Homo sapiens: one gene and its partners. The protein of the gene in region 5 interacts with the protein of the main gene of each other region in a biochemical or structural test. Each region holds a gene or a part of one and is shown on either strand. Other genes may lie near its edges.

Region 1 (4,134 bases), on a different chromosome or scaffold from region 5:
CAGGCCTTGACAACCCCTGATGATCTCCAGAGCCTATTCAAGATCAAGACTGAGTTGTCCACAGTGGTAATCATTTACAGTGAAAAGCACCCAGTAGAGCTTTTCCCAGCCCACGCCACCCTTTGACTTGGAATTGGCTTTCCCTCCATAAACATTTGTTGACTGCCAGGCACACTGGCAGGCCTCCCAGAGAAACAGATAATGCGTACACAGTCCCTGCTCCTCAGGGCTGCATGGTGTGGTGATGGAGACAAGGAAACCAATCGTTTCAATGTCATGCACCAAGGGCTTCAAGGAAAGCAAGCCCAGAATGGTATCAGCATAGGTAATAGCCTGGAGAGGTGGGTAAGGCTTCCCCAAGGTGGAAATACCCAGTTCAAGGGATAGGCCAGGCAGAGGGAAAAACACAGGCAAAGGCACCAAGATGGGAAAAGTTCAGGTAGTAAGATGTGGCCAGAAGACAGAGTAAGTGAGGGAGACTGATGGGAAGAGAGTGACCTTGTCTGAAAGGGTTCCCATCCTGCAGGTGAAAAGCCCAGAAGGTTGCTAAGCAGAGGGATGAGGAATGTGTTTCAGAAATCCCTCATGAGAAGAGAGGATGGTTACAGCCATTTCAAGAGAGAGAGTTATGGCCACCCTCCTTTAAGATCTTAGAGGATGTAAGGTACTTGATTAGGTTTAAGCAGTCTTCATTCATTTACTCTCAAATGTCTTTGAGTGCCTACTATTTGTATTAGGCACTGTCCTAGGCTCCAAGGACAAGGTAGGGAACAATACATAGGTCCTGCCCTTGGGGAGATTCTAGTCATAACCATTCTGCCCCCGTGCATTTACTCCCAGCACACATTATTGGAGCTTTATTTGGGTGTTTCTAAAACTCTTGAGCTTACCTTGGCAGGTAATTGTGCCATCACATGCACTTTTATTTATTTATTTATTTATTTATTTATTTATTTATTTATTTTTGAGACAGGGTCTCTGTCACCCGGGCTATAGTGCAGTGGTATGATCACGGCTCACTGAAGGCTTGACCTGCCAGGCTCAGTTGATCCTCCTGCCCCAGCCTCCCTAGTAGCTGGGACTACAGGTGCACACTAGCACACCAGACTAATTTTTATTTTTATTTTTAGTAAAGATGGGATCTCACTATGTTGCCCAGGCTGGGCTGAAACTCCTGGGCTCAAACGATCCATCCACCCTGGCCTCCCAAAGTGCTGAGGATAGTGCCTGAGCCACCGCGCCTGGCCCGTTGTATGCACTTTTATTTAAATTTAACCCTAAAAAGATAAGTTTAGTGTTTTTGTTTGTTTTGAGATGGAGTTTCACTCTTGTTGCCCAGACTGGAGTGCAATATCATGATCTCGGCTCACCACAACCTCAGCCTCCCAGGTTCAAGTGATTCCCCTGCCTCAGCCTCCCGAGTAGCTGGGATTACAGGCATGCGCCACCATGCCCGGCTAATTTTGTATTTTTAGTAGAAATGGGGTTTCTCCATGTTAGGCTGGTCTCAAACTCCCTACCTCAGGTGAACCACCCGCCTGATGCCTTGGCCTCCCAAAGTGCTGGGATTACAGGTGTGAGCCACTGCGCCCGGCCAAGTTTAGTGTTTTTGTTTGGTTGGTTGGTTGGTTTTTTTTTTGAGGTGGAGTCTTGCTCTGTTGCCCAGGCTGGAGTACAGTGGCACGATCTCAGCTCACTGCAACCTCCGCCTCCAGGGTTCAAGCAATTCTCCTGCCTCAGCCTCCCAAGTAGCTGGGATTACAGACGCCTGCCACCGTGCCGGGCTGATTTTTGTACTTTTAGTAGAGACAGGGTTTCACCATCTTGGCTAGGCTGGTCTCGAACTCCTGACCTTGTGATCCACCCGCCTCGGCCTCCCAGAGTGCTGGGATTCCAGGCGTGAGCCACGACACCTGGCCAAGTTTAGTGTTCTTTTTTTTTTTTTTTTTTTTTTTTTTTGAGATGGAGTTTCACTCTTTCGCCCAGGCCAGACTGCAGTGGTTCTATCTCGGCTCACTGCAAGCTCTGCCTCCCGGGTTCATGCCATTCTCCTGCCTCAGCCTCCTGAGTAGCTGAGATTACAGGCACCCGCCACCGCGCCCGGCTAATTTTTTTGTATTTTTAGTAGAGACGGAGTTTCACCGTGTTAGCCAAGATGGTCTCGATCTCCTGACCTCGTGATCCACCCACCTCAGCCTCCCAAAGTGCTGGGATTATAGACGTGAGCCACCGTGCCCGGCCAAGTTTAGTGTTCTTAAGAGAGGATACTATAATGTTGTTCCTATGAACTGTTGTTTTCATGACAGATGAACTGAAGGCAGGAAGAGCAAATAAAGGACAAAATAAGGGACTATTATATCCCAGATAGGAAATGAAGGCCCTTGCCAAAATCAATCACCCTTCAGTAAGAGGGTATTCAAACTTATCCTCAGCCCAGAGAACAGAAAAGGCCTAGGTGCTCTGCTCTTAAAATCCTACCTTGGCAGCCAGGCGCGGTGGCTGACACCCGTAATCCCAGCACTTTGGGAAGCCGAGGTGAGTGGATCACGAGATCAGGAGTTCAAGACCAGCCTGACCAACATGGTGAAACCCCATCTCTACTAAAAATACAAAAATTAGCCGGGCGTAGTGGCATGTGCCTGTAATCTCAGCTACTCAGGAGGCTGAGGCAGGAGAATCGCTTGAACCTGGGAGGCGGAGGTTGCAGTGAGCCGAGATCGCACCACTGCACTCCAGCCTGGGCGACAGAGTGAGACTCCGTCTCAAACAAACAAACAAAAATCCTATCCTGATTCCTAAAGATTCGCTTCAAGTCCCAGGAAAATGGGTGTTAAGTGTCTCCACCCCCAGGATCTTCACTGGTGGAATCTCCTTACCTGACTAGGAGTGAGACCAGCAATTTCAGGTGTCCCTGTCCCTGGCGCATAGGCAGGATCCAGAGCGTCAATATCAAAGCTGATATAAATGGGTTTGCCTCCCATCTGCTGCCTGACTTCCCCCATCAGAGGAACCAGCGACTTCATCCAGCAGTCTTCAGCCAGGACTACCCGGAAGCCCTGCAGAGACAGGGACTGAGGTTTCTGTCTGGCAGCATTTACAGGGCATTTCCTGTTTGCCAGCCCCATGCTCAGCTCTGTGTGCACATGACACTTGACCCTCCATCTCCATGAAGAGGGAACTATCCTATTTTACAGGTGAGGAAGGGAGGGACAATGAGTGGTAAGGAAGCAGGGTCAAAGCTGACTGATGGAGTTGGAATCAGAGAGAAGCTTTGCTAAAGCAAGAGTGGGAAACAGCAGCTCACGCTAGCACCTTTTGAATTGCTCTGTCCAGAAGACTGGCCTTGGCACGCTCTAAAAGCAAGGGATTTGGGTCTGTTCCATTGGGGTCTTGTCATACACGTCTATCTGAGAGCCATTCTGCCTAGAGGGTACGAGGACCAGAACTAAGAAGGTGGCAACTCATCTTGGGTCCGGACTTCCTCCCCTCTTTTTTTTTTCTTTTGAGATGGAGTCTCACTTTGTCACCTAGGCTAGAGTGCAGTGGCGCGATCTCAGCTCACTGCAACCTCCACCTCCCACGTTCAAGCAATTCTCCTGCCTCAGTCTCCCGAGTAGCTGGGATTACAGGTGCGCACCGCCACACCTGGCTAATTTTTGTATTTTTAGGAGAGACGGGGTTTCACCATGTTGGCCAGGCTGGTCTCGAACTCCTGACCTCAGGTGATCCACCCACCTTAGCCTCCCAAAGTGCTGGGATTACAGGTGTGAGCCACTGTGCCCGGCCTCCTCCCCTCTTCTAAGCCAGCACCGTCCGAGGGGTTGGTCGATTTCTGCTTGTCTCCCCCGCCCAGCGATAGACTTCCCATGGCCCATAAACCAACTTCCTCACTCCTATGCTCCTTATGCCCCTGATGATGCAAACTCAGCCTTGTATCCCTGCTTCAGACTTGATTAGTAAAGCCCCCGCTCAATCCCTGGCTGCCACTGGTGAGGCAACGGAGAGGAAGACATTTTGAGGGGCAAGGGTGGGGGGCATTCGGTCTGTCACCTGGCTCCGGTTGTATCTGTAGGGATCCAAGGTCGTGGAAGAGCCCCGGATGCCAATCTGCACCACACGCTTACAGTCCAGGAG
Region 2 (4,134 bases), on a different chromosome or scaffold from region 5:
GGACAGGAGGAGGGATAACAACAGAGGGCACCCTCTCTGGCCACTGACTGGCGTCTGACCCCTTGAGCTACTTGGGCAGTTCCCTTCAGCCCCCTTGGGTTTGGCTCTGCTACTCCTAGGGCTGATGACCCCACAAGACACACAGGTGGGCTGTGCTGGCCAGGCTTGGACAAGGCAGGAGAAAGTAGAGGATGGGAGGCCGGGAGACACTGAAGGACCTGTGGTCCTGCTAGTCAAGCCCCCATAGGCCCAGGGCACAGGGCCCAAGGCAGTCAGGGAAATGGTCTGAGTGTCCCCTCCTGATGACCAAGAGCAGGGAGGTAGCCTACTGAGCCCAGGAAAGCAAAACCTGAGTGGTCATCAAGAGAAAGAGCTGGAATAGGGGGTACCAAATCTGGCCATTCCACTGAGGGCTGCTCAGGGCTGGAGCCTCAGTTGTACAGACCCTCCAGGAGACACAGGTACCCAGGACTGGGCCGGTCTGGCCTGCTGGGGCCTGGGCAGTTGGGCACATGACTGGAGGTTTCATGGACTGCTCATCCTGTGAGGTTCAGGTGAGCACATGGAGGATTGCCGCCATGGGGAGGACGCCAAGAGATGCGGAAGGGAGGGCAGGGCAAAGGAAGGGAAACTTACGTCAAACTTTCCAGGGTTCTGCTGTAACTTCACCTTGCCTCCTGACAGGTACTGCCAAGCACGGCCCCGCAGAGAAGGCGGGATGCCCTTTTGGCACCGCAGACGAATCTGAAAATCAAAAGGACAGCTGAGCCCATGCAGCCACCCAGGCAGCTCCCCTAGCCCAGCCCCTCTGCCAATGCGTGGTGGGCCCTCAGTGCACACAGCAGCAAGAGCAGAAACAGGGAGAAAAGAGGACTTTCGCCGGGCAAGGTGGCTCACGCCTGTAATCCCAGCACTTTGGGAGGCCGAGGCGGGTGGATCACCTGAGTTCAGGAGTTTGAGACCAGCCTGGCCAACATGGTGAAACCCCGTGTCTACTAAAAATACAAAAATTAGCTGGGTGTGGTGGCGGGCGCCTGTAATCCTAGCGACTCGGGAGGCTAAGGCAGGAGAATCATTTGAACCCGGGAAGCAGAGTTGCAGTGAGCCAAGATCGTGCCATTGCCCTCCAGCCGGGTGACAAGAGCAAAACTCTGTCTCAAAAAAAAAAAAAGGACTTTTCCTACTGTTGCTACCATGCCAATCCTATGGTGCGGGGAGAGGAGGTGCCTGCAATTAGATATGCTAACACCAGGTGATGGCAGGGTCCCACATCCCTGGTGACAACACAGGCATTCCTGAGGTTTGCCATGGAATTCCAGACCCTCATAACTATCTTCTGAATCAAAATGGAACCCTATAGGCGGGCACGCTGGCTCACACCTGTAATCCCAGCACTCTGGGGAGCCGAGAAGGGCAGATCACTTAAGGTCAGGAGTTCGAGACCAGCCTGGCCAACATGGTGAAACCCCGTCTCTACTAAAAATACAAAAAATTAGCCAGGCATGGTGGTGGGCGCCTGTAATCCTAGCTACTTGGGAGGCTGAGGCACGAGAATCGCTTGAACCCAGGAGGTGGAGGTTGCAGTAAGCTAAGATCGTGCCACTGCACTCCAGCCGGGGCGACAGACCGAGACTCTGTTTCAGGAAAAAAAAAAAAAAAAAGGAAAAGGAACCATTACAAGTTGGGTGAACCCCATAGTCTGTCACCAGGGAGGGCATTGCACTGTGTGCGGCTCAGCTGCAGCCACAGGGAAGGTAGCTCATGAGATGAACCAGAATGTGCCCAGAGGTGTGGCCTGGGCACTTTCACGCAGGTATGTTGGTTTCAGCAGCCATGTGGCAGGATACCGCCAGCCTAGAGGGGAGAAATCTCAGCAGAACTCTGAAGGAAGATGGGAGCTGCTCAAATGGCTCCCTCTTTGTTTTGGTCAAGAATCCCCACTCTCCTCTCGTTGACCCTGAGCTCCCAACATCACCAGCCTGGGGCATAGGCAGCTGGCCTGAGTGTGAGTCCTGATCTCAGCCCTTGCTAAAATGGCCCAGGTCTTCTCTGCCACTCGTAGAATGGGAGAAGTGAGGGAGGAAGTATTTGAGGCAGCTCATGACCCAGAGCTAGTGCTCAATTCCGGCTAGCTGTTTTTATCAGGAAAAGTTTTCACTGGCAAAACTCAATTTGAAAAACTATCAAAACGATCATGTCTTTTACAAATGGGGCATTGAGGGTAGGGGAAAATTCGTGGGGGAAATTTCATCACACAAGCAGAGTGGGGGTAAATTTGTCATACAATCAGAAACCCTACTACCTCCTAGCTGCACCGCACAGGCTGGAGGGACCCAGCCCCGTGTACTTTCTACATCACCAGTGGGCTCCTCCTGGGCTTGGGACCAGAATGAGGCTCTGAAGGCAGTTGCCCTGACCCGTCAAGGTGGGCAAGGACAAAGGCAGAGGCATCACTCCTGTGAAATGCTGTGGTGGGGGAGGGGTGAGATGGCCAATGATACTCCCTCAACCCCTGCACTAAGCAGCCTGACCTGGGATAAAGGGGATGGGCGCTCGGGGCATGAGAAGAACATCTGGATGTGGGTTTGAATCTAGCGCTGACCTTAAGCCAACCACTTCTCAACTGTAAGATCTGAATAATACCTACTACTGTGCAGAGTTGTCAAAGGAGTCCATTAGAGAGGGAAAATGTGCTTAGTGTGGGGCCTGACACAGTCTGTGTTCAGTAAGCAATGGCTTCCTCTCTGCCCCTCCATCCCAGGAGGATGCTTGACACAGAAGCCCAGGACCTCAGCTCACACCTAACTTCCCCTCACCTAGAAACCCCCTTCAACAGTCCTGCTGGAAGCTCTCAGAGGAGGGAGTACAGAAGCCCTGGCCTTCCTGGGGACCAGTGCAAACAAGAGAAAACTTTCCAAGGGTCAGAGAGAGTCAAGAACCAGGAAGGAGCCAGGCAAACAGGCTGAGGGTGGTGGGGGAAGAGTAGCAGTGGCTGGTCACAGGTGCCAAGTGAGAGCTTCTGGGACTGCCTAGAAAGGAGGCAGAGGAAGGGGGCTGAAGGGAACTGCACTAGACGCAAGGAAGAGTTTCCTGCGGCTATGGGACAAGGGTCTCCTTAAGGAAGCCAACTTGGGCAGGCTTTGGCAAAGGGATGTGCTTTAGCCCAAAGCCACAGGCCCTTCAGGCTCTCCCACAGAGCTAAGCTCAGCAAGAGGCAGCCCCACATCATCACAGCCCCCATCATATTTGGCCTTCTCCAGGAGAGCCCTGGAACACTTCGCGGGCAGCAAAGAGCTGGGAGTACAGCCAGCCTTTCCCACTCTGGCCTCCTCAGCATAAAGGTGCTGGAGGGGGTCATCTCTACCCTGCCTGCCTTAGGGAGGATGGTAGGGACCAGTAAGGATAAAGCATGGGAAAGTATTCCCAGAAACCACAGAGGATTACCATTCTCTGAGGCCAGGCCTTGGGAAAGGAGGTCTCTGATGAAAGCTGAGTGAGGACACACCCTTGCCTGCTGAACTCTGTGAGGGCAGGGCCCTGCGGGAAGACAGCATTCCAGCCCCAGCCCTGCCTCCCTGCAGGACCAGAATTCTGTCCTAGACATGGCTGGGAGTCTCCGGAAAGGAAGGCACCCTCCCAGCAGGACTATGTATGAGTCCAGGAGAAGTGTTGGGTCTGAGCCCACTTCCTGAAACAGGTATTATACTTCCTGTGCCACGACTTCCTGACCAGAGGGAGAACTCAAGCCTCCACAGGCAGGAAGAGCCCCGAGGGCAGGGCCCAGTATGGCCACAGCTGAGATGGCACGAGGGGCACCCAGTGGATGGTTCTGGGCTGGAGAGAAGCAGTGAGTTAGGGCCTCTGGGCACGGTGGATTGAAGCACTTCCTCTGGAGGCCTCAGCTGGGCAGGGGCAGGTCTTGGGCTCTAACCACAGTGCCAGGAAAGAAAAGGGGAAGTGTCAGCTGCTACTCTGCTGAGAGGTGCTCCCCGAAGCTCCCCTCTGGAATCCCGATTTTCAAGAACACGGAAGGTCCCTGCCAACCACCAGTCACCATAACAGATTGCTGGAGAGCAAGCTACAGCTCACAGTAAGAGCCAGAGGAATGATGAGGCAGGGAAACAGAGCCAGAGT
Region 3 (4,897 bases), on a different chromosome or scaffold from region 5:
CCTGGCTTCAAACTATACTACAAGGATACAGTAAGCAAAACAGCATGGTACTGGTACCAAAACAGACATATAGACCAATGGAACAGAACAGAAACTTCAGAAATAACACCACATGTCTACAACCATCTGATCTTCAACAAACCTGACAAAAACAAGCAGTGGGGAAAGGATTCTGTATTTAATAAATGGTGCTGGGAAAACTGGCTAGATGTATGCAGAAAACTGGAACTGGATCCCTTCCTTACACCTTATTAAAAACTTAACTCAAGATGGTTTAAATACTTAAATGTAAAACCCAAAACCATAAAAAACCTGGGCAATACCATTCAGGACATAGGCACGGGCAAAGACTTCATGACACCAAAAGCAGTTGCACCAAAAGAAAGCAATAATTCTTATAGGAGGAGGAGGACAAAGTGTCTTTATGATAGGTCTCTGGAGAACAGGGGGATGGGAATAAATGTCGTGACTGGGTGTGGTGGCTCACGCCTGTAATCCCAGTACTTCGGGAGGCCAAGGCAGGAGGATCACTTGAGGCCGGGAGTTCGAGACCAGCCTGGGCAAAATGGTGAGACTCCACCGCTACAAAAAATGTAAAACTTAGCCAGGTGTGGTGGTGTGCACCTGTAGTCCCGGCTACTGGGGAGGCTGAGGTGAGAGGATCAGTTGAGCCCAGGAGGTTGAGGCTGGCAGTGTACTCTAGCTTGGGTGACAGAGTGAGACCTTGTCTCAAAAAATAATAAATGTCATGATAGATACAGGATGATGCTCATGAAAATAATTAAGTATATATGAGAAGAAAATAATTCAAGTGAGAAACAACAGGGCAATTACTAACTTAAGGAAAAACAAAAGACTATACCGTATAAGAAAAGAGATGTAATCATAATATTGTAACTTGGCTCTGTAATGGACAATATCTACCTAGTTATAATGATTCAGAGAATGACACTTTAAATAAAATTGGTGATATAACTACGTCTAATCGTATAATTCACGAGGTGACTTTGGTTTAGACATTTCTGTCTCTGGGCCTCAGTTTTCTCAGCTGTGAAATTAGAGTGTGAGTCCTTTCTGCATCTTTGAAAGTTACCTAAGCCCTTGACAAGGTTTGAAAGGCAGCCATTTGCAGAAGTTACCTCCTCCTACAAAAACTGTTTTTGATGTGCTGCTAATGTTTCCATAAAACAAAAAGAAAGCCAAGTTATTTTAATAGGTTAGCATAAAAAGGAGGTATAAATAAATATAAAGGTAGGTAGCTTTACAGATACCAAGGCTAGGTAGGGATAATTTCCTTAATTTTCACTGAATTAACACAAGTCCATAAAAGAATATTAAACAACCCAAAAGAAAAATATGCTAAGAATATAGACAAAATCCTCAAGTTAAAATATGTAAGTACATAGTAAATATATGAAAAAAGAAGAGGGCTCCTTCATAATTAGAGGAATGCAAAGTGAAATAAGTTATAGCTTTTCATCTGTGAGACAGGCAGAATATTTAAAGTTGTCCATACCCAGTGCTGGAAAAGGAGTGGGAAAAAAGGCACTTTCGTAGACTGTTGGAGAAAGTGTTAACATAGGAGATTATTTGTCAACAGCATAGTTTTTGAACTTTTGAAATCCCACTTGTAGGAATTTATCTTATGCACGTTTATCAGGATATAATATGTAAAAGGCTATTCATTGTGGCATTGCTTGTTTCTAGAAAGATAAACGAATGAGTCAGGAATTGAATAGCCACTTTTCTCAGTAAACCGCCCATAAAGAGTAGCCCCTGGTGGCAGCCTCTGGTAATGCAGGCATAGTGTTTAGGAGGCTAATTTAGGTGACACTGTTCATCACCCTTGTTGATTTACCTTTAAGAGTATTGTCAACTGTCTCAAGTCCCTCGTGAAGAACAGGTTCCAGCTTATCCACGACATTGCTTAGGTCATTGCCAAGATTGTCAAGAAGAGACTCTGAGGTCCCAGTGAGCACGCCGCACAGGAGAACAAGTTTCCAAAGCTGAAGCATCTTTTGTCTTGACACCTGGACAGTCATGGGAAGAACAGGAGTGAGAATTGCCCAGAGGGAAATGGACTCTTCAGTGAGTTCCCATCACTCTTAACATTTAGCATTCCATTAAGATAGATGTGGTTATTTCCTATTTTACAAATGGGCAGCCAAGGTCAGAAAGCTACAGCAACTTGCCCGGAGACACACAGTCAGTGAGCAGAGGAGCTGGGATTTGAAAAGTCAGACTTGACTCCAAGCCCATACTCTTGACACAAAGTTCCTTTTCATACGCTGTCTTCTCTGCCTAAAATATTTTTCTTCTTCTTTACTTTTCCACTTAGGTCAATTCCTACATCATGCCCTCTGTGAAGCCTACTGTAGGCCCCTTCCCAGATTCTAGGTTGGAGGAGTCCCACCTTGCTGCCTTCATTATCCTGATCAAGGTCTTGGATAACACTTCCCTGATGATTTGACCACCTTTCCTACCAGGCTGTGAACTCCTTAGAGGAAGGACTGTGACTTATTTCACTGTCGAATCCTCAGGCGCCAGTAAAAAGCCTGCACCTAGTACAGTACAGTAAACGAATAAATCTTTGTTGAATATAAGTATGAACAAATCAATGGAGACCACCTCATGACCCTGCATTGTTCATTAGTTTGACACTTATTTTAATATAATCTATAGATCTCTAAATTTACTCTGATTTGCCATTTGTCTTGACACCTGGACAGTCATGGGAAGAACAGGAGTAAGAATTGCCCAGAGGGAAATGGAATCTTTAGTGAGTACTCATCACGAACTTGCCATTTAGAGCACATTTAGAGATATATTGATTATCTCTGCTGTATTCAAAATATTAGCTAACCCAAGCAATCCCACCCCTCTGCCTCTTGCCCCCAAAGCCTTCCAAAGACCACCACGTGTGGTGCCACTGGGGGGAGCACGCCACTCACGCGTTTAGAGGAGGATGCTCATGAAATCCTTGCCCCACTGCACAGTCTGCTGGGATTCTGCTGAATGGTGGCGGCTATTATATGGTGGAGATGGGATGGAAGGCTGCCCACAGAAGCAAGCCTTGGTTCTGGGATCATCCAAGGACACTCCAAGGAAAATAACCCCTCTCCAGGATGAGCAGAGAGAGAGATTTCCAACTCAAAGGTCACCCAGGATGCTTGAATTGAAACGGATGGCTATGGAGAGGGCTTTCCGCCAAGACTAAGACCAGGTCCTCATGGAGCCTGCAGCTACCGAGGGGGTGGTCCTTGGTCCTTGTGGGTGAGGACTGGGAGAAGACTGAGAATGAATGAATTGGAGAATGTCCTGGCAGGAGGACCCATAATGACCATCCGGTCTAACTCCGTCATCATTTGGAAACTGAGGCTCAGAGAGGGGAAGCCACCAGCCTGGGGTCATTCAGCAAGACAGGGACCGAGATGGGTCTAGAATTGTGGCCCACAAGGAGTCAGACAGCCTCCCAGGGGTCCTGCCCCCAGGGGTCTGCACCCGGCAGGTGCAGCAGATGCCTGGCAGCTGCTTGTGCTGACACTGGGCTTGGTGTCCCTAAAGGGCACTTTAGATGCACTTTTCTGTTAGTCTTTATGAAAACTCTGTAAGGCAGGTTTTCAGAGCTCCATTTTCCAGTTGAGAAAGCTGAAGTTCAGAGAGGGAGGTGGCTTGTCCATACTTGCAAGGACAGGAACCAGGCATTTGGGCCACCAGGGAAGACCCTTCCACCCATATCAGGCTGAGGTCAGTTAGCAGAGAGGGAGAGTCCCTGGGCCTGAGTATCCTGTTTTTGCTTCGGCCACTGATGTTTGGGTTGGTTGTAACGCCTGCTGCATTGGGCCTGTGTCAACCCGGAACAGCACAGGAAACTCGGGTGGGTGCCCACTTGGCCTCAGGCTGGGAAGGACTGGCACAGAGCTCAGGGTCACCATAGGTCTCTGCCCTTCTGCTCACCCACCTGCAATTCAGCAAGGACCTGGGGGGCCTGTCCTCAAAATGATGCAACCAAGCAAACGGTGGGACAAGACCAGTGGCTCCAGGAGCTGGCTGTTCCTACACTGACCATGGCTCCACTGTTACAGCACAGAGCTGGGCGGCTGCAGGAAGGTGATGGCCAGGCCCCAAGAGCCCAGACCATTAGACCCCTGCTGCAGTCTTGCCTGTGGTCTTGAATGGTTGTCACACCTCCTTCCCTGGCTGCCTGACACCGGGTTCTCCAAACGTCTGAGCCCCGCTCTTCCCCCAGTTGTGAAGCACAGAGCCAAGGGCTGTGCTGAAATCTTGTGAAGGCAGTTTGTCCCAGCCCAGGAACATAGCCCAGGGTGCTGAGCATGATGCAGTGACCTCGAGACCTGGTGTTGGCCCAGGCCTCAGTTGCCTCATCTGTAAAATGGGTAAACACGCTGTTCCTGGATCTCAGAGGCATGGTGGACAGGCAAGGACCTAGGAAATCAAAACGATGGTGAGGGGCTTTGAGGGCAGTGCTCAGAGCCTGGCACTGGGCTTGGGCTGTCCTGGGCATGAATACTCTCTCTCTGCTGGTTGCTGGCCATGTGACCTGGGCCAGAGACCGCACCTTGCTGAGCCTCAGGCTCTTTATCTGTGAAATGGGACTAAGAACAGTGCTCACCTCAAGGGCATGCTGTGAGGTCAAATTAGTGTAATACCCATGAAGGCTTAGCATAGGGTAGGCCCATGATGCACGGCAACAGCAAAGATGGCGAAGAAGATGCTGATGAATATGTGCGCATATGGTCCCGGCTTACGATGGTTTGACTTCAATATTTCAACTTTACTATGGGTTTACTGGGACACAACCCATTATAAAATGAGGACCATCTGGCCAGGCATGGTGGTTCACACCTGTAATCCCAGCACTTTGGGAGGCCGAGGC
Region 4 (4,134 bases), on a different chromosome or scaffold from region 5:
AGCAAATCAGAGCTGAAGGACAGAAAAGTCATGAGTACATTTAATTCGAGGTTTCTTGCTAGAGGTAGGAAGTGGGACAACATCGTATGTGAAATTCTAACGTGTGGGTTAGAGGATTGAGAATCCAATACTCAAATGCTCTGTGCTGCTAAACCTTGTCACCACGATATAACTTCTACAAACAAAAGGAAAGCTACATTATCTCCCTTTTCCTCCATGCTTCAAGAGATGATTGATGTTCAGTAACAATGCATAGCTCCACAGAAGAGAGACAAAAAAAGATAAACCAAGCCTACAGTAAATAAAGGTTTGAGAAAAATACATCTAGGAATAATCTCTTTAGTTGGATATCAAACAATGAAAGTAGTTTGGTAAAAAACAAGGAGAGAGAAGTTGTCTAATTATCAAGTGTTTTTTATTATCCTGAGTCATTTGGAACTGGAACAAATATCTCATAATTTTTATTATTTTAAGATGGATTTTTCTCTTACTTCAATATCAATATTGTTGAAAGGTTCAACTTCTTTTGATGTTCGTATTTCATTTCCTTTTGGGCCATGAATATAGTAGTGATAAATATGCCTAAAATAGAGAAGAATAATTTTATACTTTTAATTCACATAAAATTATAGTTAATGTAATCTTCTATCAAAATATTTTAACACTATTTACTAGGTATCAAGCACTTTATTAAGCATTTTAAAATACATATTCCATTTAATGGTAAAAACAATTGAGATGCAGGTATTACTGCATCTCATTTTACAGATATAGAACCTGGGGTGCAAGAAGTGTATGTAAGTTATCTGACATCACAGAATAGAGTTAGGGAGCCGTGGGCTTCAACCCAGACCTTTCCAACTTCAAAGACCACATACACCACTTCCAAGAGGAATAATTCATCAAATAAATATAAACTAGACAGCAAGAGTCTATAATTCTACTTACCAGGTACGTTCCAGAAAGGACTCAATTATCGGTGGTAAACTGGATTAGGTATCTAATCTCAATAAGAGAATACCATTCCAGAACAGCAGTCCCCAACCTTTTTGGCACCAAAACCAGTTTCATGGAAGACAATTTTTCCAGAGATGGGAGTTGAAGGGGGGTGATTTGGGATGAAAATGTTCCACCTCAGATCGACAAGCACTAGAGTCTCATAAGGAGCACGCAATATCTCACATGCACAGTTCACATTAGGGTTCGTGCTCCTATGAGAAATCTAGTGCTGCCAGTGATCTGACAGGAGGCGGAGCCAGGTGGTAATGCTCACTCGGGCCCACCACTCACTGTGGGGCCGGGTTCCTAAAAGGCCACAGATGGGTACCAGTTCACGACCGGGGCGTTGGGGACCCCTGTTCTAGAACATTCATCTCTCCTCTCCTATAGCACTGAGACAATCTTACCCTAAGATTCCAAAAACAAAACTAGTAAGTTTGACACCATCTCACTGAAAACCAACATTTTGGAAATAACACCTCTTTATTTTTTCAGAAAAGGTTAAAAAAGATTATATTTTGGTAACATTGTTCAGGATTATAAAATACCACGTCTTTATTCGTGAAATAGAAATTTGCAATATTTCTTCATAATCCTTCATTAGAGCAAGAGTATATTTAAATTATGTGTTAATGTACACTGAGTTCCTTCAATAAACTATAAAATAGCTAATAAAATATGTACTTGAAGAAAACTGCAAAGTCCTACTTAAATACCTTGGGTAACAGGGATAATAAACAACTTCAACAAGAAAAAAGGTATTCCTAAAACCAAATTTATTTTCCCATAAAAAAATTTTAAAATTCTCTTAGCGTATAATTACGTATAAAATTGAGACTCTCAAGAACAATAGCCTTTTGGGTAAATGTAAAAAGATACATTTTTAAAATATGAATTTTGAGCAGATGTACCCATTTTGCAAGTCTCAGTAATTCATACTAATGCAAATTAGGGAAACAATACAGTAAATCGTATGTATCACATAGCTATAAAAAAAAAATTTTAGGCCGGGCGCGATGGCTCACGCCTGTAATCCCAGTACTTTGGGAGGCTGAGGTGGGTGGATCACCTGAGGTCAGGAGTTCAAGACCAGCCTGGCCAACACGGCAAAAACCTGTCTCTACTAAAAATACAAAAATTAGTTGAGTGTGGTGGCACGCGCCTGTAATCCCAGCTACTCGGGAGGCTGAGGCAGGAGAATCACTTGAACCCAGGAGGTGGTGGTTGCAGTGAGCCAAGAGTGCGCCATTGCACTCCAGCCTGGGCAACAAGAGTGAAACTCCGTCTCAAAAAAAAAAAAAAAAATTTTTTTTTAGAGCCATTAAATAACTATTCCTCTGATTTGGTCTAATGGAATATAGAGTCCCTACAAGTGTTACTGGAATAAAAACACAATGATTATTTTCAGTACTAATGTCATATAGGCACATATGTACGTATATTTTTTATTTTAATAGGCTTGATGCATTCATTCACTTGATAAACATTTGAGCATCTACCATGTAGCAAGTATTCTTCTAGAAGACATTGGAGATACAGCAGTGAATTTAACAACAAAAATAAATATATATGGTATGGAAGATTACGACAGGTCCTATGGAAAAGAAGCACAAAACGGGGTCATGGAAGTGATATAGTGCTCAATCTGACAAACTGTGAAGTTCTTTTTTAATTTTATAATATTGTCAAAATCCTGTGCCTCAAATAATGCTCAGTACACTAGAGGTGATCTATAAATATTTACAGAATAAATGAATAGAGAGCTGTTTTAACACCAATATCAGAGTACTGGATAATACTAAAGGGAAGAAAATGAGACAGGAGCAAAACGGATACCAAAGAGGCTTCAATATATCTGTAATGTTTTCTGCCTTAAAAAAGTTAAGTAGCAACATTTCCTAAGCCAAATATAATTACTTACGCTAACTGTCGTGTCCAAAGGTGGAAATAATTTTTCAAGTACTGTATGTGTTCTGGTTGTACCCCTGTGATAACCACAGCAGTAAAGCTATCTTTTTCCTTCTCCTCTATGATAAGATGATGTAGAAATCTTTCATCATCATTTGTAATGTGAACAGAATCAGAGGGCTACAAGAGTGAACAGAAATACAACAGATTAAATCATCTAAATTATAATTATACAAATAGCTATTGCATCAAATTTTAATGTGATTTACTTGGAGTTTCACAAATAGGTTTCAGAAAAGCTTTGGAGGAAACTGGCCCAATACAACAAACTGGCTGAGTATGTGACAACACTGTGAAGACAAGGGAACTTTCACACAGACTGCTAAACTAGCATGCATAAAGAGCACCCTATCTTATAATGCTAAACCGATTTTAGAATCATAAACGAAAAGGTAAAGACAAATACTGAGTTTTAAAATGCCTTAAAAAATTGAGGACACTTACCCCTAGGGTAGAATGAACGCTTGCTTGGGAGACCTACCACTTAACTTGGTCAGGACCAATGCCCAGCCCTCCATGTTCAAGAAAACTACAGGGCAGGCTGGACCCAGCTAGCTAAGCCCAAACACATAGTGCTTAAAAGTAAAATCATCCTGGACACCAACCCACTTTCAGAGAATATCTAAAACTTATGGAAGGGAGTTAGTAGGGGAATTTGAGGATAAAATTACAAACTTCTCCATCTGTAGTATGAATCTATGTTTTAAAAAATTGCAGGCCGGGCGTGGTAGCTCACTCCCGTAATCCCAGCACTTTGGGAGGTTGAGGCGGGCAGATCACCTGAGGTCAGGAGTTTAAGATCAGCCTGGCCAACAAGCCGAAACCCCATCTCTACTTAAAATACAAAAGTAGCCAGGCGTGGTGGTACACGCCTATAAACCCAGCTACTAGGGAGGCTGAGGCAGGAGAATCGCTTGAGCCCGGGAGGCTGAGGTTGCAGTGAGCCAAGATCGCGCCACTGCACTCCAGCCTGGGCAACAAGCATGTCTCAAAAAACAAACAAACAAACAAACAAACAAACAAAAAACATGGTATGCACGCATGCGCGTTTGTGTGTGTATTCATATACAGTCATATGTCACATAACATTTTTGTCAACAATTGACTGCAGTGGTCCCATAAGATGATACAGTATTGTAAAATTAGTGTACCTTTTCTATGTTTAGC
Region 5 (4,134 bases):
TTAAAAATCTGCAAATAAGATTTTCTTCTGTATATTTAATAAAGCAGCAGTTACTAATTTTAAATTTAACATAATTCTCATGTATATGGGCAAAAAAGTGGTAAGAAACTAAAAGAGAGAAAAAGATGAGTTTCAAACACTGACGGCTTGCCTATCCCTAGAAACTATGTATTTTGCCTCCTCTCAAATAGTGGGAAGTTATCAAATTATATATTTTCCGCCAGAATAAAGTGAATTTACTAATATAAGAATTTCAAATAAATCAACTGTAGTAGAAAATTAAATCATTTTGTTATAGCTAACATGAGTATAAAACAGTTTTCACAAGTAATTTTTAATTTACAGATTAAGAAACTGAAATTTAGTGGGGGAAATTCAGTTTTTTTGTTTGTTTGTTTTTGCCACACAAGTAAAAATAGGAAAGCTAGGAAAGGTTGACATATCTTCTAATTTCTAAGTCTATTCTATTTCCCCTACCATAAGGAATGCTGAGAGATTAGTGTGGTGTTGTCTTGATTAATTTCTCTTTATTATTCTAGATAGGCAGGTCTATGGTTTCTATCCGTTTCTAGAAGAGAAAAAAAATGGCAAAAATGAAACACTGGGGTTCCTCCTGTCCTCCACTTGTGATCTTAGGAATGATTCTTAACTTCTCTGAACCTCTTCTTTTTCATCTGTATGGTGGGGATAATGACGATAATATTGCAAGATTTAAATGAGTTAGTACATGTAAAATGTTTAGAATAGTACCTGGCAGAAAGTAAGTGCTCAATAAATGTTAGCTATCCTTATTTCCATTCTTCCTCCTAAACATTTCCCAAAAGTATATAAGTTAATCGATTAGAATGCCTATCCTACATTGGCCCTCCTTTTCCCAGTAATGAACCAGATATTTCTTCCTAACCTGCTACAATCATATAAGAAGGGTGTAGACTCCTTCTTGTTTATATGGGGTCATACAAGGCATAGCCAAAATTTCCTCTGGAGGATGGGTACCTCCTGGAACGAGGTAAAGTATTTCTAGCATCCAATTCCCATTTGGAAGACAGGGGAGAAATAAATGCGCCATTATGATAATTCTAACTAGTTATATAAACGAAAAGCTTCAGTCCAGTGGAGAGTAAAGCGGTCCAAGCCACTGTTCAATGTAAACTCCCTCAAAGCATGGGCTAGAAGCACAGCAAGAAATCCATCACAATCTGGACCACGAGCAGCACTTGCGCGAGAACAAGACCTGCCTGGGACCCAGCTGCAGCATTCTCCTGTTCAAGTGGGGTCTCTCTATTTGCAAGAGAAATATGCCCCATGCCCTAGCAATAGATGAAACTCCAATAAAACAAGACAGACTTACTTTGTGAAATATCTATTAAGTGCATATTATTTTAAAAAGTTGATAGGCTAGAAAGATAAATACGTTAAATGCACTAGCTTTGATGGCATGAAATGAAGGGGTGGAGGCAAAGCAGAAAGGACATGGTTGCAGGTGAGATTTGGAAAGGGGTGGAAAGTTAACGAGGTGGAGGATACAGTTAAGTTGTTCCAGATGGCAGGATCTGACAGAGAAGGCCAGCGAGGGTTAGCAGAATGGATGAGGATGGGGAGACAGGAGAAATGAGGTCCAGCACAGAGAGAGAGAGCATTCTCAACCCAGATGATGATCAGTTCTGAATCATATCACAGAGTGGATGAGGAATCATTAGAGAAGACTGCTGAAGGAACCACAAGGCTAGACACAGACAGATGGGAAAGAGCAAAGTGACCAGAACAGAAAATCCAAGGCCACCAGCAAAGGAGCCATCAGGTTTGGAACACTGATACTGAACTCTGTGATGGATTCAGAATTCCTTGGATTAAAAGATTCTGCAGATGAGAAAAGATGGGAAATATTTTTCCTCTTCCATTAAGACAAAACATTTAAATGTGTTTCTTTAATTAAGATTACACTTAGGAAATGAGTTTCTAAATAGAAGAACTTTTAAACACAGGATGAGTGTCAGAGTTTAAAGGGATTTAGACGTCACCTGAGTAATCCATTAAAAGTTTATCAGACAAACTGTGAGATTGTTCTTGTCAGAGAGAATTGAGAATAAGATTACTGGTTGTCTGAGATGGTTGAGTTTCAGTTCTCTCTGGAAACAAGTCCTAGACGAATGTCTGACCTTCCCTTTCAAGCATAATGATTCCATGATTGGGGTAAGTGTAAGGAACAATGACTGAAAAAATGAGAGTGAGTGTGATCACAACCCAGCCTTTTAATCTTGCTCAGTGCCAGTGGAGAGAGCAATACCCATACATGCCCAGACAGCAGAAAAGGAGAAAAGATACTGAGGTTGGGAGGAGAAATCAGGAAGAAGAGAGGGAGAGAGAAAGAAAGTAGAATGCACAGCAGGGAGCAGTTCCCTGCCAGCCACAGATGTCTCACTTAGACACCCCATTGGGATGAAGGTCAACGGGGCTGCTTATAGTTTGTTAGTGGGAAAGGGACAGGGAGAGTTAATTCTATTTTAGGCCATATGTGTATTTGGGAAGAGAGAGAAAGTGAAGATAAGTAGAAAATAAAATGACACGTAGGCCAGCTATGATGAAAAATGTTGAAGTCTATACTAAAGTGAAGGCAAAGGTTTCCGACATGAGCTTTGAGCCAGTAGAGAAAAGACAGAGAGAGAGGGTGGGTGGCAGCAAAACAATGAAAGGTGCCCAGAGCCGTGCTCCCTGTGGAATGTCAGTAAATATTAATTGGCTGATGTTGGCATTGGTAGGCAGAGTGAAGCTTGTGAAAGAAAAATGCCATTGCCAGTGGAGCACGAAAGTTCAGATCTCGGAGCTCAAAATGGCAGCACCTGAGCAAGCAGCAGAGTCACATCCCATATCACCAGAGAAAGTGATTCTCTGCATATGAGGCCAAACTGTCTCAAGGAAAAGTAATCACACAATCATGACAAGAGAAAAAGAACAAAGTCTGTGGGAGCCATGAAAATATCTCCCCTTCTCTGAGAACATACTCCCTTCCCCTGAGGTATGGTAGCCCCTAGCTGAGAAACCAGGGCTGTCCCAGGTAAACAGCTGTGAAGGTAGGTGCCAAGAAGCCTAGATTTACCCACTCCAGAAAACCCTTTTGTCAGATGTCTCTGGAAACCTCACAAAATGTTATTTTGGGATTTGGCTCTAAGGTTGGGTAATTGGTAGACTCTCATTCTGGAGGAAGAAAAGAACGGCATTGCTTCTTTAGATTTCAATATTAGATGGGAAACGGAATGCTTTTGACGGTGCTTGGTGTTTTCATGAACCAAAGTTCCTCTCATAATGGCAGGCATGGGCCTTTTGGGTAAAGGTTATTTTCTTGCTCTTGTTCTACATTGGTAGGTACCTGATAAGGCAAAATGATTGAAACAGTGGCTTGAAACATTAATAAGAAAATGACTCAATTCCCAAGTCAGAGAAGTGCTAAGTTTACCTGAAATATATTCTACTATAATACTGTGGATCAGTGTCTATGTGGAGTGATCCAAGGACTTGTCTAGAAATACATGTTTTATACATCTTTTAAAATTACATCTGACCTAAAGAAAAAATATTTATTGTTCAATAATATATTCATTTTAAAAATGCTTTTTACACCTATAAATTGTCCCAGCCCAGAATTCTAAGTGCAAAAATGTCAGTGTCTGGCACATAGTAGGTACTTAATCGATATTTGTTAAGTATGTATTAGATATATGAAGAATGTAAGAATCAAGTAAAAATATCAAGAATGTGGGTGTTTGTAGAAAATTGTTTCCCTTTTATTCCATCATTTTCTCCTTAAGAAAATTAAGAAGAAATTGCAATTGCCATATTGCTTTTTCTTGTGGGTGATATCAACCACAAATAGCAAGGTAGTTTTGGAGTCATGAAGCAAACTTCCCCCTGCTAAGATCTGGGTAAGGTTTTAGCCACAAGAGGCCTAATAAAGCTCTTGAAGCATTTCCTAAGAGCTCACAGAAGATTTAAATGCCCTACTACTTTCAACTAGACAAATCCAATTCATTTTAACAAACAGTTTTGAAGTGCCTACTAAGTGTAATGCCTTGTGCTAAATGTCTGGAAGAGTGAGTGTTAGGTGGAGCCCTCAATGGGTATAAAGAAATATGTATG
Region 6 (4,134 bases), on a different chromosome or scaffold from region 5:
GAGGCGGGTGGATCACCTGAGGTCAGGAGTTCGAGACCAGCCTGGCCAACATGGTGAAACCCCATCTCTACTAAAAAAAAAAAAAAAAAAAAAAAAATTAGCTGGGCATGGGGGTGGGCACCTGTAATCCCAGCTACTTGGGAGGCTGAGGCAGGAGAATTGCTTGAACCTGGGAGGTGGAGGTTGCAGTGAGCCGAGAATGTGCCATTGCACTGCAGCCTGGGCAAAAAGAGCGAAACTCCGTCTCAGAAAACAACAACAACAACAACAACAACAAAACGGCGTTCTGTGGCCTAAATGGAGGCCCTTCTTGTCTTCCTGGTTTTCTCTCTAAAATTATAGAGTACCCACATCTAACAAATACCACCCTGCTTTAGACGCTCTAAGAGAACTCAGATTAGCCGGCAGAAGAAACATTTACATCTGCCCATTTTTCTCTCTTTTGGTATTTCTATGATGGCAGATGTTCCTACCACAAAGAAATGATACATTTGATGTGATGGATATGCTGATTACCCTGATTTAATCATTGCACACTTGGGTCTCTTTATGCCATTCACCCTCTGATGGCAAAGCCGCAAGCGTCAGGCTCTTGTTCTATTTGGTTCCCTACTCCTGCGTGGATGCAGCAGGGCCCTCATGGACCTCTCAGTCCCAGTATCTGGCCAGTGGTGTGTGGGTTTGGCTCACACTGGGGGATGTGAATGATGTACTTCAGTGTAAAACAGTCCAAGTGCCGAGCTCAAGAGGCTTCCTTTTTAGTGCAGGGGCTGAGGCTAACTAGGGAAAACATACAGAATACGAAAGCTGGGATACAGGTCTACACCGAGCTCTGGCTGTCTTGACGAATTCAGAGGAGTGGGAGAGTGAGAAGCCAGATTATCCCAGGAAGACTTGACAGAGGAGGTGGGGACATGAATGGGGCTGACAAGGGGAGTTTGGCCAGAGAGTGAGGAGGAGGAAGGTAAGGAAGACAATGGAAGAGTACCGTTAAAATGTCCATACTACCCAAAGTCATCTATAGATTCGGTACAATTCCTACCAAAATTCCAATGACATTTTTTACAGAAATAGAAAAAAAAAAAACAGTTGTAAAATGTGCATGGAACCACAAAGGACTCTGAATAGCCAAGGCAGTTTGAGTGTAAAAAAAACAAAAGACAAAACAAAACAACAACAACACAACAAAAACAGGGCTGGGCATGGTGGCTCACGCCTGTAATCCCAGCACTTTGGGAGGCCAAGGCGGGTGGATCACCTGAGGTCAAGAGTTCGAGACCAGCCTGGCCAACATGGTGAAATTCCCGTCTCTACTAAAAATACAAAAATTAGCTGAGTGTGGTGGCACACGCCTGTAATCCCAGCTACTTGTGAGGCTGAGGCAGGAGAATCGCTTGAACCTGGGAGGTGGAGTTGCAGTGAGCCAAGATCATGCCATTGTATTCCAGCCTGAGTAACAGAGCAAGACTCCGTCTCAAAAAAAAAAAATAATAATAAGGTATTGCATTTATTGAAATAGCTAGAAGAGAGAATTTGGGATGTTCCTACCACAAAGACATGATACATTTGATGTGATGGATATGCTAATTACCCTGATTTAATCATTGCACAATGTATATATGTACTGAAGTACCACTTTGTGCTCCATAAGTATGTACAATTATGTGTCAATTAAAAAAAAAAAAAGGCAGCTGGGCACGGTGGATCACGCCTGTAATCCCAGCACTTTGGGAGGCCAAGGCAGGTGGATCACTTGTCAGGAGTTTGAGACCAGCTTGGCCAACATGGTGAAACCCTATCTCTACGAAAAATACAAAAATTAACCAGGCATGGTGGCATGCACCTGTAATCCCAGCTACTTGGGAGGCTGAGGCACGAGATTCGCTTGAACCCAGGAGGTAGAGGTCAGTGAGCTGAGATTGCACCACTGCCTTCAAGCCTGGGCAACAGAGCAAGACTCTGTCTCAAAAAAAAAAAAAAAAAAAAAAAAAAGGCAACAGAATGAAAGCAGAGAAGCAAGAAAGAGCCTGAAATCTTGGAGGTGGCAGGGCAAGGGGATGTGTGCCAGTGGACAGTGGGAAGTCATCTAGGAGGTGGGTTCCAACAGCCACTCACTCCTGAAAGTGCCTGTTCATAAGGCCCTGCATAGTCTTGGGCTAATCTTCCACCTCAGACACACAGCATCTTGCAACAGGGAAAAAAAATCTGGCATCAGAAAGAACAAAGCTATTTTCTTAGGAACTATGGGTCTGAGGTTGGAGTGAAAAATGAAGTTCCATGAAAGCTCTTGGTTTGAGAATTAAGTCAAACCAACTCTTCCCCAAATATTATGTTCGTTCCACAGCTCTCACATAAAATCATCTTAATTGCATTTTTTTAACCTGCTGACCTTGCTATGTGAATAATTAAGAACTAATTATTAGGACTCAGCCCTGTGCTAAGAGGTTTTCCAATAATTAAGGAGTTAACACTGTGCTAAGAGTTTTGTACACATTTAATTTTCCTCCTAACACTGAGGTATGTCCTGTGACCATCTGCATTGGAAGGATGAGGACGGAGAAACAGCGTGGTTAAGCAATGTGTCTGAGGTCAGAGTTCACAGGTGGCAGAGCCAGCGGTCGCCCCAGGAAGCTGGCTCCACAGCCCATGCTACTGCCTAAACCCTGACTATGTGGCCTCTGTGTGGAGAGCCCTTGGCAATCAAAAGGTTGGATCGTCGAGATCCCCATGGAGACCGTACTAGCTACTAGCTTTCCAGGCCCACTGTGGAAGGCCAGGGGCCTGCCAAGACTCAAAGCCACGTGCTCTTCTCCTTCTCTGCTCAACCTTTTTTGAACTTCCCCTTAAGCATAATGTTCCTGCTTCTGGTGACAGCAAATATGGGCGGTAGTGCGGGTGGTGGTGGGGAGTAGCAATGACACAAAAGGAGGGGATTTAAACTCTGTTTTTAAATTTCATATTCAGGCCGTGGGCGGTGGCTCATGCCTGTAATCCCAGCACTTTGGGATGCTGAGGCCAGGCAGATCACTTGAGGTCAGGAGTTCGAAACCAGCCTGGCCAACATGGGGAAATCCCATCTCTACTAAAAATACAAAAATTAGCCAGGTGTGGTGGTGCACGTCTGTAATCCCAGCTGCTTGGGAGGCTGAGGCAGGAGAACTGCCTGAACCTGGGAGGCGGAGGTTGCAGTGAGCCGAGATCGAGCCACTGTACTCCATCCAGCCTGAGCGACAGAGCAAGAATCCGTCTCAAAAATAAACAAATTTCATATTCGCTCACTGAATAAACCTAAACAGGCAATTCATGTTAGCAATTTGACTTTATTGCAAAGTCTGTAACTTAAAAGGTCTTCATCTGAGGGAGACGAGGTTACACTGAGGCAGCCTTTGGTTGTCACCTTTCAAGACAACCTTTTCTCTGGAAACGTTCGAAATGCCCAATCATGGGAGGAAGGTTGACTCGTTACAGCACATCCGTGGGGTGGAAGGCCCAGCAGCCTCTCCAGGTGATGTCGGGTGTAGAAGAGCCTGCAGGATAGCAGTGCGGTTTCCTAGAGTAGGCTATGGGTGTGCTGACAGCAGAGTGGTCAGTGCGAGGGACAGCCTGCTAGGTCAGGCCCATGGGCTGAGGAGCAGTCTTACTGATGCCAGCAGGCTGCTCAAATATTATTTCGTGTGGATGTATGAGGTTTAAAAAGGTTGTTAGGTACTGGTGACTACCACAGTGGATTTTTTTTTTTTTTTTGGCAAAAAGACAAAAAAAGCACAGGACTATATATTTATTCACACCCATATACGCACAAGACTCAAATGATACAGACCAAAATATTAACAGAGGTTTTTCACTTGGGCTTAGCTGATTTTTATGCTATCTTTCAAAACTTCCCTCTCAATTGTAATTTCTTAAGTTTCTAGAATAAACATGTATCCCGTTCATAACAGAGTTAAACATTTAGTGACAAACAGGGGGCCTGGATTCCCCACACTGCTTCAGTTTCTCACAACAGCTTTGACAGCTTTTCCAACAGCTACCACCTCCTCTCGTTCTGGTTTCCAAGAGCCACCATTTAACAGACAGAGTCAATTGCTGCCAGAAAGCTAAATGGCTCTAAAATCAGACCTCACAATCAACACA
Region 7 (4,134 bases), on a different chromosome or scaffold from region 5:
CAAGGTGGGTGAATTACCTGAGGTTAGGAGTTCCAGACCAGCCTGGCCAAGATGGTGAAACCCTGTCTCTACTAAAAATACAAAAATTAGCTGGGGCAGAGGTTGCAGTGAGCTGTTATTGCACCAACGCACTCCAGCCTGGCAACAGAGTGAGACTCCATCTCAAAAAAAAATAAAAAAAATAGACTGGGCACGGTGGCTCACGTCTGTAATCCCAGCAGAGCGAGATTCCGTCTCAAAAAATAATAATAAATACAAATAATAAATACAAATAAATAAAATTAAAAAATAAAAATCTGTAGTGCCATCTGCCTCCAAAGGCTTACTTAGCCTTGCTGGTTAATAAAATTATTATTCAAGAGAAACTATCAAAGACACTGAATTTGCCCCTAAGACAAAGAAGCTGTTTCTGCAAAGGGACACCTTATGTAGATGAAAAAATTTAATAGTTTGGAACTTTTGTATTCTGATCTCAGTCTCTCTAAGTTTAAGAACTTGTTCCTTAAATTTTTTTTTTTTTTTTTTTTTTGAGACAGAGTCTTGCTCTGTCGCCCAGGCTGGAGTTCAGTGGCACCGTCTCGGCTCACTGCAAGCTCCGCCTCCTGGGTTCACGCCATTCTCCTGCCTCAGCCTCCTGAGTAGCTGGGACTACAGGTGCCCGCCACCATGCCCAGCTAATTTTTTGTATTTTTAGTAGAGACGGGGTTTCACTGTGTTACCCAGGATGGTCTTGATCTCCTGACCTCGTGATCCGCCTGTCTCGGCCTCCCAAAGTGCTGTGATTGCAGGCGTGAGCCACCGCACCCAGCCGTTCCTTAAATTTTTTATTGCCATACAATTTCAGTAATGTTTTCCCATTTCCACCTAGTGACAGACTACATTCTAGTTTTAGCCTTTGCAGCAAATTGAGATCCAGTTTTCTGGGGAAAGATTGCTACATTTTTATAGCTTTCTTTTCCTGTAGAGATGTGACAGTAAATAAAGTGGTTCGTATTTCCAATGATTAATCTTTTTAAAAAATAAACTCTATTTTTTAGAATAGTTTGTTTTTTAAGAAAGAAAAAAAAGAAAGAATAGTTTGTTTGTTTTTGGTTTGTTTGAAACAGGGTCTCACTCTGTCACCCAGGCTGGAGTGCAATGGCGCAGTCACAGCTTGCTCCTGCAGCCTTGATCGTGCAGGCTCCATCTGTCTTCTCACCTCAGCCTCCCTGGTAGCTGGGACTAGAAGCACACGCCACCATGCCCAACTAATTTTTGTATTTCTTTTGTAGAGATGGGATCTCACCATGTTGTCCAGGCTGGTCTCGAACAACTGGGCCCAAGAGATCCACCTGCCTCAGCCTCCAAAAGTGTTGGAATTTCAGGCATGAGCCATCACGCCTGCCCTAGAATAGTTTTAGATTTATTTTAAAAATTGTAGGCTGGGCGCGGTGGCTCACGCCTGTAATCCCAGCACTTTGGGAGGCCAAGGCGGGTGGATCACCTGAGGTCAGGAGTTCAAGACGAGCCTAGGCAACATGGTGAAACTCTGTCTCTACTAAAAATACAAAAATTAGCTCGGCGCGGTGGCATGTGCCTGTAATCCCAGCTACTTAAGAGGCTGAGGCAGGAGAATCGCTTGAGCCCAGAAGGTGGAGGTTGCAGTGAGCCGAGATTGCATCATTACACTCCAGCCTGGGCGACAGAGCGAGACTCTGTCTCAAAAAAAAAAAAAAATTGTAAAGCTAGTACAGGGAGTTCCTGTTCTGCAACTGGCCAGCAGAACATCTTAAGTGGAATCATATGCAGTTATTTGCGTCTTATTTTTTTCACTTAGTATGGTGGTTTCATTTTATTATTACTATTATTATTAATGAGGCAGAGTCTCGCTCTGTTCCCCAGGCTGGAGTGCAGTGGCGCATTCTCAGATCACTGCAATCTCTACCTCCCTGCAATCTCTGCCCTGCTAGGTTCAAGCGATTCTCCTGCCTCAGCCTCCAAGCAGCTGAGACTACAAGTGCACACCACCATGCCCAGCTAATTTTTGTATTTTTGTAGAGATGAGGTTTCACCATGTTGGCCAGGCTGGTCTCGAACTCCTGATCTCAAGTGATCTGCCTGCCTCAGCCTCCCAAAGTGCTGGGATTACAGGCGTGAGCCACTGCACTCAACCAGCATAGTCTTTTAATGGTCTTGAGATGTGGTGTGAATGTATAGAAACTATTCATGGCTTTTTGTTGCTGAATAGTATTCCATTGTGTGTGTATATATCTATACACACTACATTTTGTATCCATTAGCCAATCCATTGATATGTGTGTTGTTTTCACTTTTGGCTATTATAAATAAATATGAACATTTGGGTACAGATCTTTGTGGAGACATAGGTTTTCAATTCTCTTGGATAAATAATTAGAAATTGTATGCCAGGTTCTGTGGTAAGTATATATTCAGCTTTATTTTTGAAAAACTGGCAAACTGCCTTCCACAGTGGCTATATCACTTTGCATTCCTACCAGCAGTGTATGAGGATTCCAGTTGCTTCACGTCCTCACCAACAAGTTGTATTATCAGTCTTTTTTCATTTTAGCCATGGTAGTGGTGTTTAATAGTATCTCATTGTATTTTTCATCTGCATTTCCCTAATGACTAATGATATGGAGCAACCTTTTGTGTGCTCATTTGCCATTCCTGTATCTTTTCTGGTGACATAGCTGTTCAAATTTCTGCTCTTTTTTTTTTTGAGACGGAGTCTCGCTGTCTCCCAGGTTGGAGTGCAGTGGCACGATTTTGGCCCACTGCAACCTCTGCCTCCTGGGTTTAAGCAATTCTCCTGCCTCAGCTTCCTGAGTAGCTGAGATTGCAGGCAGACGCCACCACGCCTGGCTAATTTTGTATTTTTAGTAGAGATGGGGTTTCACAATGTTGGTCAGGCTGGTCTCGAACTCCTGACCTTGTGATCCACCCGCCTTGACCTCCCAAAGTGCTGGGATTACAGGCATGAGCCACCACATCCAGCCTTCTGCTCACTTTTTATTGGTGATTTGTCTTATTATTGAGCTATAGGACTTGCTTATATAAATATTTTTTAATTTCTTGATCAAAACAGCATATGTTTTGGAGTTTATCTTCAATGTGTAGATGAACATAATGAAAGGCTGTTAAGTACTAGCTAAGTACCTAACTGGAATATAAGTGCTGTTTTGCATGTGTAAGTAACTAAATAATAGATCTGGTAGAAATATAAAGTATTTTTTTGTGTGCCACTCCCTTTGCCCAACACCAATGAATCCATCTCTCCAAATCTGCCTGTTCTAGTGAATGCTAAGTTTTTTATTTGTTCCCTTTTTTTTTTTTAACTTTGATATGATAATTGTTGGTTAGGGTCCAGCTGTGGTGAAAACTCATCTTATGGCTGAGTTTCAGGTGTGTGCCAACATGGCCTGCTAAATTTTGTATTTTTAGTAGAGTCAGGGTTTCACCATGTTGGCCAGGCTGGTCTCGAGCTCCTGGCCTCAAGTGATCCACCCGCCTCAGCCTCCCAAAGTGTTGGGATGACAGGCATGAGCCACCACAGCCAGCCAGACACGACAGCATCTGTAGATTATGTTCTATTCCATTACTTAATACTTCTTTTTTCTTTTCTTTCCCTCCCTGCCTTTCTGTTTCCTTCCCTCCCTCCCGCCCTCCTTCCTTTCTTCCTTTCTTTTCTTTTCTTTCCTCTTCTTTTTTTGAGACCGAGTCTCACTCTGTCACCCAGGCTGGAGTGCAGTGGCGCGATCTCAGCTCACTGCAACCTCTGCCTCCCAGGTTCAAGCGATTCTCCTGCCTCAGCCTCCGAAGTAGCTGGGATTACAGGCACCCACCACCACACCCGGCTAATTTTTGTGTTTTTAGTAGAGATGTGTTTCACTATGTTGGCCAGGCTGGTTTCGAACTCCTGACCTCAGGTGATCCGCCCACCTTGGCCTCCCAAAGTACTGGGATTACAGGTGTGAGCCACTGCGCCCAGCCCTTCCTTCCTTCTTTCTTTCTTTCTTTACTTTTTTTTTTTTTTTTGACAAGGCCTCACTCTGTCACCCAGGCTGGAGTACAGAGGCACAATCATGGCTCACTGCAGCCTCTACCTCCCCATGCTTAGGTGATTCTCCCAAC

The links.
Region 1: the proteins of GRIP1 (region 5) and AGMAT interact in a test that uses a peptide from one of them, tested with the Homo sapiens proteins (one large-scale study listed by IntAct).
Region 2: the proteins of GRIP1 (region 5) and TBC1D10A interact in a test that uses a peptide from one of them, tested with the Homo sapiens proteins (one large-scale study listed by IntAct).
Region 3: the proteins of GRIP1 (region 5) and BPIFA2 interact in a test that uses a peptide from one of them, tested with the Homo sapiens proteins (one large-scale study listed by IntAct).
Region 4: the proteins of GRIP1 (region 5) and SMCHD1 interact in a test that uses a peptide from one of them, tested with the Homo sapiens proteins (one large-scale study listed by IntAct).
Region 6: the proteins of GRIP1 (region 5) and PDZD2 interact in a test that uses a peptide from one of them, tested with the Homo sapiens proteins (one large-scale study listed by IntAct).
Region 7: the proteins of GRIP1 (region 5) and EZH1 interact in a test that uses a peptide from one of them, tested with the Homo sapiens proteins (one large-scale study listed by IntAct).

The regions. Positions count from the first base shown.
Region 1 is NC_000001.11:15,574,809-15,578,942, forward strand, and holds part of AGMAT (guanidino acid hydrolase, mitochondrial precursor), read right to left. Parts: coding exon 4,051-4,134; intron 3,057-4,050; coding exon 2,877-3,056; intron 34-2,876; coding exon 1-33. UniProt on the Homo sapiens protein: Hydrolyzes linear guanidino acids to form urea and the corresponding amines. Displays specificity for substrates having a negatively charged head group and short chains including taurocyamine, guanidino propanoic and butanoic acids.
Region 2 is NC_000022.11:30,298,808-30,302,941, forward strand, and holds part of TBC1D10A (TBC1 domain family member 10A), read right to left. Parts: intron 745-4,134; coding exon 637-744; intron 1-636.
Region 3 is NC_000020.11:33,166,264-33,171,160, reverse strand, and holds the start of BPIFA2 (BPI fold-containing family A member 2 precursor), read right to left. Parts: upstream 3,003-4,897; 5' UTR 2,952-3,002; intron 2,031-2,951; 5' UTR 2,016-2,030; coding exon 1,859-2,015; intron 1-1,858. UniProt on the Homo sapiens protein: Has strong antibacterial activity against P.aeruginosa.
Region 4 is NC_000018.10:2,693,480-2,697,613, reverse strand, and holds part of SMCHD1 (structural maintenance of chromosomes flexible hinge domain-containing protein 1), read right to left. Parts: intron 3,088-4,134; coding exon 2,921-3,087; intron 583-2,920; coding exon 492-582; intron 1-491. UniProt on the Homo sapiens protein: Non-canonical member of the structural maintenance of chromosomes (SMC) protein family that plays a key role in epigenetic silencing by regulating chromatin architecture.
Region 5 is NC_000012.12:66,672,533-66,676,666, forward strand, and holds part of GRIP1 (glutamate receptor-interacting protein 1), read right to left. Parts: intron 1-4,134. UniProt on the Homo sapiens protein: May play a role as a localized scaffold for the assembly of a multiprotein signaling complex and as mediator of the trafficking of its binding partners at specific subcellular location in neurons.
Region 6 is NC_000005.10:32,082,807-32,086,940, reverse strand, and holds part of PDZD2 (PDZ domain-containing protein 2), read right to left. Parts: intron 1-4,134.
Region 7 is NC_000017.11:42,734,571-42,738,704, reverse strand, and holds part of EZH1 (histone-lysine N-methyltransferase EZH1), read left to right. Parts: intron 1-4,134.